Homo sapiens: one gene and its partner. The protein of the gene in region 2 interacts with the protein of the main gene of each other region in a biochemical or structural test. Each region holds a gene or a part of one and is shown on either strand. Other genes may lie near its edges.

Region 1 (3,342 bases), on a different chromosome or scaffold from region 2:
CTTGGGACTTTTTTGACGTAAGAAATACTTCTTTATTTATGCATATTCTTCCCACAGTGATTTTTCCAGCATTCTTCTGCCATATGCCTTTAGGGCTTTTATAAAATAGAAAATTAGGCATTCTGATATTTCTTTAGCTGCTTTGTGTGAAACCATGGTGTAAAAGCACAGCTGGCTGCTTTTTACTGCTTGTGTAGTCACGAGTCCATTGTAATCATCACAATTCTAAACCAAACTACCAATAAAGAAAACAGACATCCACCAGTAAGCAAGCTCTGTTAGGCTTCCATGTTAGTGTAGCTTCTCTCCCACAAGTTGTCCTCCTAGGACAAGAATTATCTTACAAACTAAACTATCATCACACTACCTTGTATGCCAGCACCTGGTAACAGTAGAGATTTTTATACATTAATCTTGATCTGTTTTAATCTTGATCTGTTTTAGTAGAGATTTTTATACATTAATCTTGATCTGTTTTAATCTTGATCTGTTTTGTCCTAGAAAATTCCATCATACACACATTTCCTGATATTTGGGCTTAGTGCTTCTAAATTGTTGCAGACACAAAACTTAATGATTCATTCGTAGTAGTAATCTGTAGCTAGTTTTAGGGTTTTGCTGAAGTCAGTGTGGGGTGTTTGTTTGAGGAAAAAGTTCCAAATATCCACTAGCATAGAATTTTAAACTATTTTTATTTTAAAGTTATGGCATAACATATAACATAAAAATATTTTATATACGTTTGAAAAATCTATACCGTTCTTTTTTATCATCAAAGTTTCTCAATGGCCAGTAGAAGCAAAAAGACAACACCACCTCTGATCTACGGGACATAATGTTCCCAGGAAAAAAATCTTCAAGTGGGTGTGAGGGTGTTTCTAATTCAAAATATGTAGATTTCTCCGCATGGAAGAAGTAGTAAAGATTTTCTTAACATGCTCCTGTGTTCATGCTTGGAGACAAGAATAAGATGGTTTAGAAGCTTTACCCTTTCTTGGAACAAGTAGAATCCCGGTCTGAGACCTCTCAGGAATTTCAGAGCTTAGCAGTCTGGCCTGGAGGTTTTTCAGCCTTTTAGTATAATAAACAGTAGTTGCTTCCTAGAGTTGAGTTTTTAAGGATTCACAAAAAGGAGCCTGTACAAAATATACATACAGTTCTTTATTAAACAACTGTAAACACTTCACTGTAAAAATCCATAAAACTTTATAAACAAACATTTTGTAAATAGAATCTATGCTACAGTAAAATAATTAACACAATTATTTACATGCAATACTGACAAATTTGGCACTTTTTGAAAAGAAATGTACAAAACACTTGCTTTAAAAGAAATTTAAAATTATAAAAACTCCGAGCATTACTATCATGCACTTTGCAAATACCTCACAAGCACTTATGGCACAGCTATCAGAGAGCATCAGGCTCTCTGGTAATATTTATGTAACTTTTAATGTGCTTCCATAAGTTTGTTGTAAAACCACCTGGACATTGTCAAGAATAAAGTCAAATGCCATATTCCAAACCGATTCCACCGATTGCTGCATCAGCCTAAAGGTGGGGAGAGAAGAAATGTCATTAGGAATTAGGAAAGGTCCTTAAGACTAATTATTCCTTTTTATATATAAAAATTGACTTTGGCAAAAAAAAAAAAAAGTCCTGGCCAGGTGCGGTGTGGCTCATGCCTGTAATCCCAGCACTTTGGGAGGCCGAGGAGGGCGGATCACCTGAGGTCAGGAGTTTGAGACCAGCCTGGCCAACATGGTAAAACCCCGTCTCTACAAAAAATAGAAAAATTAGGTGGGCATGGTGGCACATGCCTATAATCCCAGCTACCCGGGAGGCTGAGGCAGGAGAGTCACTGGAACCCAGGAGGCAGAGGCTGCAGTAAGCCAAGATCCTGCCACTGCACTCCAGCCTGGGCGACAGAGTGAGACTCCATCTCAAAAAAAATAAAATCCTAGAACACTCAAATTTTTTTTTATTTTGTTTTGAGACAAGCTGTCGATCAGGCTGGAGCCATGCAGTGGTGCAATCATGGTTCACCGCAGCCTCCACCTCCCAAGTAACTGGGACCACAGGTGGGCACCACCACCCCCCCAGATTATTTATTTTTTGTATTTTTCAGTAGAGATGGGGTTATGCCATTTTGGCCAGGCTGGTCTCAAACGATCCACCCACCCCAGCCTCCCGAAGTGAAGTACAGGCGTGAGCCACTGTGCCCAGCCCACTTCCTATGGTTTTTTAATCACATGTAAGACCTTGAGGGCAACATATTTGGAACCTTATTTGCTACTTAGTCAACATGGCAAAATAAAGGATATCACTTTCTCATTAACCCTAATGAGTACAGTTTCCCAGAAAGTTTAAAACAACTCAGTACACCCTCAGCCATTGTGACATGCCATTTTTTCCCATTTGATAAAAGTGATGAATTACTACCTTTTCATGTATTTTATAACTAGATCCAGTTTTTCCAAATCTTTTTCTTCTATTAGATCAGTACAGTATTTCACAACTTGGAGAATGTCTTCTTCCATTGGATCTAGGAAGGGGGAAAAACTTCAAATGAGGACCAGTCTTTTTGAAGGAGAAAGTCAGAGATCTGCATGGATAAAGGAAAACTGCATTTCTACAACTATGTCACTAACAGCTATCAAAGGAATGGGCTTTGTTACTTTTCAAAGCAAGTCCCAGAATTTAAAAGATTTGGGGGTAGCTGCTTTAAGCTTATCAGAGTTAGAGAAATGGGTTAAATCTGCATAGTTTAGTCTGTTTATGTTCTCAAATCATGAGACGACTACATCTCAGCCTTGGGCCATCTAACACAGGCCAAGCCAACCTGAAATTGTAGTTATCCATTCTCTGAGCAAGGTCTTCACATCATTGAATTCAACAGCTCCAGCTAGATTGGGTGCTGGAGGTCTCACACAGCCAGCTGGGTCAGACTGCAAACTAGAAAGGCCTGGCACACCTGAAGTAGAAGCAGAGAGTTCTTCCTGTTAAGAAAACAAAGGATAAAATTGCTATATTCACACATTATCCAGGTATATTAAGATCTCATAAAGGTCAAAGTTAAGGAATTACCAGGGGTTTCTCTGCAGGAGGTCCTTCATGTTTTAGAAACCCATCAATTAACTTCTGGGGACTGCCACAGGCCCCTGGCAGAGTTTTTGCAGGACTGTTAAGCAGCTTGTTATTCAAAGGACTCTGAATCCTTTTTGGTGAACCAATGGTTTTTTTCTTCTTGTTTCTTTTCTTTTCTTTCACTGCTGCCTTTAGATGAAGTAAAGGATTCTTTGGCACTAAGAGCAGATGGATATAAGATCCTCAACAAAATGA
Region 2 (7,492 bases):
GAAAAATGCTTTTCAGGCAATAATAGAAAAACTAAACTAGTAAAAGGGTATTAATCCAATCAGTTCAGAATTTGTAATATAATTTTGAAACGGCCACTTCATTTGAGAAAAAATATCTTTGGTTGCTATTTTTCAGGATCTCATTTGTAAAGCAAAGTCAATTTTAAAACATTTTCTCTCCAAACCAAAGTAAAGCATTAAGGACCTCCCAAAGTAATTCTTATATATGAAAAAAGTATGTTTATGCTATTTTATGTAGCATAGGTTTATCATGTGTTACACATTTTTATTACCTTATTTTACTTGTTAGTAAAGATATAAACTATAAAGATATAATACAAACCATGTTTATATCTTTGCATTATGTTTACATCTTTACTTTCAAATAAATCTGTCTTCATTAAAAATTCTAGCATTCAGAGTTTTACTAAGTCAGACTGGCCTCTCTTTTATATTAATAATTTTCAAGTTTTATTTTATTGGACTAGTTTTCCTTGGGGAGATAATTCAAAAGCAGGTAATTCTGCAGTTTTTGATTATGTTTAATTAATATTAATCTCACTGGGAGTTTCTGACGTGCTAATAAAAATGCTGGCTTGGTTTATGAAAAGTGTAAACTCTAAATGTATGCCAATGACTTCAAATTTTTTCTTGTTGAAACAAACATTTTGTTGGAAACTGTGAACTACATGGCAAATTCAATTTGATAATCCTTAACAATTTAAAATTTGACTTTCTCTGTATCAAGTTTTATGTCTTTCAATGTACATATAAAAAGTGTTACTTTTTAATTCATTTAAAATATAAATTTCAAAGTATGTACCAAAAAAAAAACCCCAATGGGGGTTTTTAGTCTTTGGTTTTTTCGTTTTTGTTTTTTTTTTTTTTTTTAAGGTGCTGGTAATCTATTGTGGGATGTCCATGAAGGATTAAATAGGAAATAGTTAATGTGTCTTTTAAAAAATATTCAGGAAAACAACAGTATATAATATTCTTTATTTTTTAAGGAACATTTCCTCACGTAATAGAATTACATTAGCTTACAGTGAAACTCATTTATTTCCACAAACGAAACTTTCCTATACAACAAAGCTTGACTATCTCTCAGGAAAACATATTTAATGACTTGTGTGGAGGAGAAAAAATTATGTGTGGAAAAGTAACTCAAACCATACAAGCTGTAATACACAGAAATGCCACAGTATATCCTATTAGCATGTCACTTTATGATTCGGAAATTTGGCTGAACAGGGCCATATCAACTTCACTATTTTATCCTTCCTCTGCATCTGAAGTGAGAACAGTGCATTACACTGAAATTCCAATTGGAAACAAAGACAGCACCACTATATTTAAAAGGGCAGAAAACCTATCTTATAGAACACTTCATCGCCTCGATTTCCCAGCCTCCAAAGTTTCAAGTGTTACACTTTCAACACGTTAAAAGCACTCAAATTCCCCATCTTTCAAGGTTCATATCAAAATCATATTCACTAGTTTAAATAGGAATATGCTACCAAATCTCACAACATTGACATTTTAACAAAGAGAATTCACATTAAAAGATAACTGCTTTAAAATGAGTGCTTGTGTTTGGGAAAGCGCTATTATCTTGGTAGTCCACAGAAACTGACTGTAGTAATAAGATGAATGGTGATGAGGGCAAGGAGCATCAAGTGGGAAATGCTATCTAAAATCCCATAGGGCAATTCATAGCTAGAGGGAAGAACAACCTTTCCTAAGATGCATTATTTCCTAGAACTCCATTATTTCATGGAAGCAGTTCAAAGCATGCAAAAAAGCAAAACCATTTTAAAACACCTAGTAAACTGGGCCTCTATCTTTTTTATATTATCATAAGCCCCAGGAGTTTTTGAGAACGTACCTTCTGTCACGGCTGTCTCCCCTTCCCATCCCTTCTTCAACATAGTTGTGTTTAAAAAATATATACCTGTACTTAAAACGCAATCCTACAGCCCAGCCTAGGAGCATTTCAAAATGTCTGTGCTGCTGAGTCTGGCTGTGGTTCCTAATAAATTCACCCCATTAAGTGTGATGTTTTAGGTTGGGCAACATAAACACGCATTTCCTACTTCCATGGATGCACATTTCCTGAAAGCACTGCACCTAAGGATGCTGCCCTGTCCCCCGACGCTCAGGCACTAAACTCTAAGGAGTCACGACCTGCACTCACAGCAGAGCCACACGGTCACCCCAGTGAGAAAGATTATCTGGCCCCAAGCGCCACTCTCTCCGGCCCACTGCATCTCCGGAACTGGCAGAGGAGAGCGAGGGTGAGAAGAGACCATGGGGAGCGACTGACAACAAGGCTGACACTTCCCCGTTTCCAGAAAGCGGCACTTGGGGGACACAAGGGATGTCCCACTAGCGACCGACCTCAGAGCAGGCCCTACGAACCCGTCCACCGATGGACATGGCGCGGCCACCTGGCCCGCCGTCCGGGGCGCCCGCGGCTTTCGCTCTCCCGGCCCGCGCCCTGGAGTGCGGCTCCCGCTCCCGGCCGCCACACGCAGTCTAAACACGCGGCGCTCGCCACCTCCCTGCCCGGGGGTGGGGGCGCCGCGCAGCGCTCGCGCGGACCCACATTTTTGCGGCTCTTGTCACGCACGAGAGAAAAGGCGAGGAGGGCGGAGGGGAGGGAAGACGCGGCAGCGATCCACGGAGACGGCCGGCGCCGGTGGCGTGTGCGCGTGTGCGCGGCGGGGAGGGCGGCCCCGGCGCCCCGCCGACTCCCGCTCCCGCCCCGCGCCCGGCGCCCGCTTACCTGCCGGGGTCGCTCCGAAGACTCGCACCACCGGCACCTTCTTGACAGGGGCCTGGGTGAGGGGGGATTGGCAGGTATCCAGCCCCTGCAGCGGGCTGGCCATGTAGTAGTCTGCAGTCACTATCCTTACTGAAAACATGTTCGCCGCCGCCGCCACTGCCTCCCTTCACTGGCGACCCGGCAGCGGCAGCAGCAGCGGCGGCGGCTCCCTCCGCAGCGGCGGCGGCGCCCCCTCCCCTTCTCGGCACGGCCCCCTCCCCTCACACAGAGGCACCTCGAGGAGCGGCGGGCGGGGCGGTGTAGGCGCTGCTGCCGCCGCCTCCTCAGGAGCACCCGGCAAGGGGCCGCAGGAGAGAAGCCCTCGAGCTTTCGTCGGTGCTGGTGCTGCCGCCACTGCCGCCACCGCCGGGAATCACACGGGCTCCTCGGTCCCAGGCTGCAGCTCTTGTTGCCATGATGATGATGTCACGGACGCAACCACTGGGGGGAGGGGAGAGGGGGGTGTGTGTGGCGAAGGGAGGCTGCGAGTAGTGCGGGGGAGGGGGCTCGGCGGGAAAAGGAGCGAGAGGGCGGGCGCCCGGGCGGGACACGGAGGGCGGGGGCCGAGAAGGGGCTTTCTCCCCCTCCCCGGGCACGCGGCGAGGGAGGCGGCCGGCGGCCGGCAGCGCCCGCGCGGGATCGATGACTCGGCTGGCGGGCACGGTCACCTGGGTGAGGGGCAGCGGAAGGGGCGGCGGAGCACCGATCTCATGGATGGGCTCCGAGGGGCTTGCGGGAGGGGGGCGCCAGTGTTCGGGGCCGTTTTGGCGGCTATGCAGGATTGGCAGGAGCTGCGATGCTCACACTTGCCTCGCCGACCGCCATTTCACATCCAGCAGAGGAGGCGGGGGCAGCCGCTGAGACGGTTTTTCACAAGGTAAGAAAATCCGCCCGCGTGAGGAGGGAGGCGAGGCGCAGATCTCGTGCCGCTGCGGCCTCGCGGGAGGGAAGGGCGGGCGGGCGGCGGAACGGGCGGGGCCGGGTGCGGACGCAGCCGGCCCTTCTCAGGTAACGCCGCGGCTCCGCGCGTGGCCCGGGGGCGGTGCGAAGGGTGGGGGCGCGCGGGCGCGGGCTTCGGCCTATAAAAGGGCCGCCCTGGCGTTCCCCCTTCCCGAACGTGCCGCGCGAGCCGCGGTGCCCCCTCCTCTTTGCTGCTGCAGTGTCTGCGCCGGGCCATTTAATGAGATTTATTCACGCACGGCTCTTCTCAGCTTTGCGAGGGGTTGGCAGATCCAGTGCACAGGGATTTCCCACTACCGTGTTTTTCTCCCGCCCCCTTCCTTCCCTCTCGTCCTAATACATCCTTCGTTGGTTTCCTCGGCCCCGCAGGCTGCGTCCCGGGCACGCGCAAGTACATGTAAGGACTTGTCAGCTGCCGGTGACCTCCCTCCTCCCTCGTCGCTCCTCCCCCAGCGGAATGTAGGATTAACAGTCTTTCCGAGAAAATTTTGGCCAAAGAAAAAGGCCTGTGAAAGTCACCGCGTTAGACGTGGCCTCCTCGTGTTTTTCACTAACACGTTATGGAAGGTTTTACTACCCGAAGGCATAAAAGCACCACCGTGGGGAAGGGCCGTTTTGAATAAACAACTTTATTCAAAAATCGAGAGGGGGTGAAGCGATGCAGTTAGGGAATTTTTGTTTTAAAGAGTAGTAACATGCAGCTGGCTTGGCTATTAAATTGGAAACAAGGGGTTCCTCTCTGACTTGGCCACTGATATTGGGCGTGACCTTGGACAAATAATTTTGTTTCTTTGGGCTCAGTTTCTACATATGTAAAACGGGAAGGTTTCTCTTAAAAACTAATCCTGAAGGGTTTCTTCTCAACAAAAAGATGCAAGCTGTAGGAGGCAGAAAGCGTGGGTTCAAGTTCGAAATTTGCCCCTGAATTAGGACCCTTGACACATTTCTAACCCATCCAAGTAGAGATCGTTCTTTTACATTTGTGTGTTATACAGGTGCATTTTAGTGGTTACCAGGTTGCCACGTATTTGAAGTGGTGTGAGAGCTACTCGTTTGGAACCGTTGTGGATTTTCAAATAGGAAAATCAAAAGGCCCAAAGAGACAGCTCACTGGTAAGAAGCTGTCTATAAATTCCCTAACATATAAATGCTATAATAAGAACTTACGCTCCGAGGGATTTGAGACTGATTACTACAGTAAATTAGCTTGTAGTTTTTAACCTCAGAGCATGATTATAAACATACGTGGCAAGATTTCTACTAATATGCTGGAAATTAGCTAATATTTTTAAGAGGCAAAATCTCTTGATCTGAAATTTTAGAAGGCTATAGAAGTGATTTTAAAATATGACTACCATGCTAAAATGTATTTTTTATAAAATAAATATTTTGTACACGCCGAATGTCAGATACACAATATCAGTGATTCTCAGTGTTCCATGACACCTAGAATTCTTTAAGTGTTGATATTTTGGCTCTTACTGAATTATATTTTGGGGGATGGGGCCTGGGAATCTGTATTGTTAGCAACACTACTTGCCACCCCGTGATTCTTAAGCAAAATAAAATTGAGAATCCTTGTACTATATTATAATCAGTGTATCCATAACTTTTAAATTATAATATTCCTAACTAGAAAATGGTAAAAGCATCAAATTAACAGATTTGCGATTTCTAGAAGAGGGTTTCTTTCCCCTTACCTCTTGAATCAACATTATTTACTTTAAGAAAAGGCAGTTGCAACCACAAGTCAAATCCTTCTAGAACTCCAAGAATGTTCACTCTTGAAGAAAAACATTTGCAGCATGAAATTAGGAATGTTGTGTTCATTGCATGTAATTTAGTTTTAAGTTGATGCTCAAATTGAAAACCTGACAATAGCCCCCTAATTAACCACTATCAAATGTGTTTTATATGTATATTCTTCCTGAAGTAAGAAAAAGTTCTGGAATTTTGAGTCAGAGAATGTGAATATTAAACCATCATTTAGCTAAGTGCTCACTTATTTTTTGGAATTTATTTCCTCATCTGTGAAATGGATAGTAATTCCTGTTTTAACTTCTCAGGGATGTTATAAGGCTCAAATGAGATAATGTATGTGAAAATATAGTAAAATGTTCATATCCAGAAGTCTGATTCATTGAGAAACAGTAAAATCACTTGGAATTGACTTATCTACATACAGTATGAGAAATGCAAAAATTGAACTCTATACTTAATATCCTTAATGCTTTTTTTTTTTTTTTTTTTGAGACAGAGTCTCACTCTGTCACCCAGGCTGGAGTCCAGTGGCACAATCTTGGCTCACTGCAACCTCCACCTCCCGGGTTCAAGTAATTCTCCTGCCTCAGCCTCCCGAGGAGCTGGGACTACAGGCATGTGCCACCATGCCTGGATAATTTTTGTATTATTAGTAGAGATGGGGTTTCACCATGTTGGCCAGGCTGGTCTCGAACTCCTAACCTCACGATCTGCCTACTTTGGCCTCCCAAAGTGCTGGGATTGCAGGTGTGAGCCACCACACCTGACTGTGCTTTCTTTTTTTTTTTAGGTGGCTATTTCTTGCCAGGAGATTTGAGATATGGTGAGAAACAAAACAGACATGGTCCCTTCCCTTATAAGGTTTATAGTCTAGCATCCTAAAAATGTATTTTAATCATATCAATTAACATTTAATCATCTCTTCTAGTTCACTGACATGTACTTAGCATGTCTGCCTTTAGTAAAAGCCTACCAAGTCTCCTTTACCAATACTGTTCAACATCTGTTAACATCTGCCTGTTAGCAGTTTATAATCTAGAACAGACAGTAGTAGCTACCATACTTTTGTGGCAGATACTATAAGATGGCTTATTCAGTATTCATCCAACCCTCTTCTTGCTTACTTTTCTGTACTTTAAAAGCTGGAAAACAAACTACAGTTCTCAGACTCCTTTGCAGCTAGATTGCTGGTGTGAGATCAATGGTGTGATCAGTAAATGTTTAACAATGGCTAGAGAAGAGGGAAGGCCCTAATTTGTAGCATTGGCCAATTCGGTTTGCTTTCTTTTTGAGGAACAGGGTCTCACGATGTTGCCCAGGCTGGTCTTGAACTGCTAGGCTCCTCCCACCTCAACCTGCCAACTAGTTGGGACTACATGGTACAAATGTGTCCTCTACCAGAGTGACTTCAGTAAATGTGGAGTTAGTTGGAAAGGATGCTGACAATCAGAAGTTGGCTTCAGTATATGACCTAGTTTCCAGCAATCAGATGTACCCATTCAGGACATGGATGTGAGAGCGAGCAACATGATGCTTCAACTGCACTCAGGGAGATAAGTATCTTCTGACAAATACCATGAAGGAGGTATCTGGTTCCTCTGGGTAGGTAGGGAGGAGTTGTGGCATCTGTTCTAGAGTCATAGGTGCTGACTGGCAGGCATTGCTGGGATGGGTTTCCACTAGAATAGCTTTGTGATGTGGGATGGGTGTTCTTTGTGGTTTGGTTTTTCTTGGATGTTGTTTCTAGCTTGGTTTATCCAAGTCTGGTTCTCTGGCCCTCTGAGAGATCTGTGAACTAAATAGTATCTTTTAATCCCTTTTTGCTTCAACCAGCCCAGTCACAGCCAGCTACATAATTTGTGGAGCCCAGAGCAAAATGAAAACGTAAGGCCTCTTGTTCCAACACAGGGGAAAATGTGCTATTATCTGTATTAAAATATAAAGCTT

What was found.
Region 1: the proteins of REV3L (region 2) and REV1 form a complex in vitro, tested with the Homo sapiens proteins (one study listed by BioGRID).

The regions. Positions count from the first base shown.
Region 1 is NC_000002.12:99,399,802-99,403,143, forward strand, and holds the end of REV1 (DNA repair protein REV1), read right to left. Parts: intron 3,306-3,342; coding exon 3,088-3,305; intron 3,000-3,087; coding exon 2,843-2,999; exon of another isoform or gene 2,546-2,842; coding exon 2,443-2,545; intron 1,552-2,442; coding exon 1,440-1,551; 3' UTR 676-1,439; downstream 1-675. UniProt on the Homo sapiens protein: Deoxycytidyl transferase involved in DNA repair. Transfers a dCMP residue from dCTP to the 3'-end of a DNA primer in a template-dependent reaction.
Region 2 is NC_000006.12:111,479,965-111,487,456, forward strand, and holds the start of REV3L (DNA polymerase zeta catalytic subunit), read right to left. Parts: upstream 3,255-7,492; 5' UTR 2,925-3,254; coding exon 2,786-2,924; intron 2,648-2,785; exon of another isoform or gene 1-2,647. UniProt on the Homo sapiens protein: Catalytic subunit of the DNA polymerase zeta complex, an error-prone polymerase specialized in translesion DNA synthesis (TLS). Lacks an intrinsic 3'-5' exonuclease activity and thus has no proofreading function.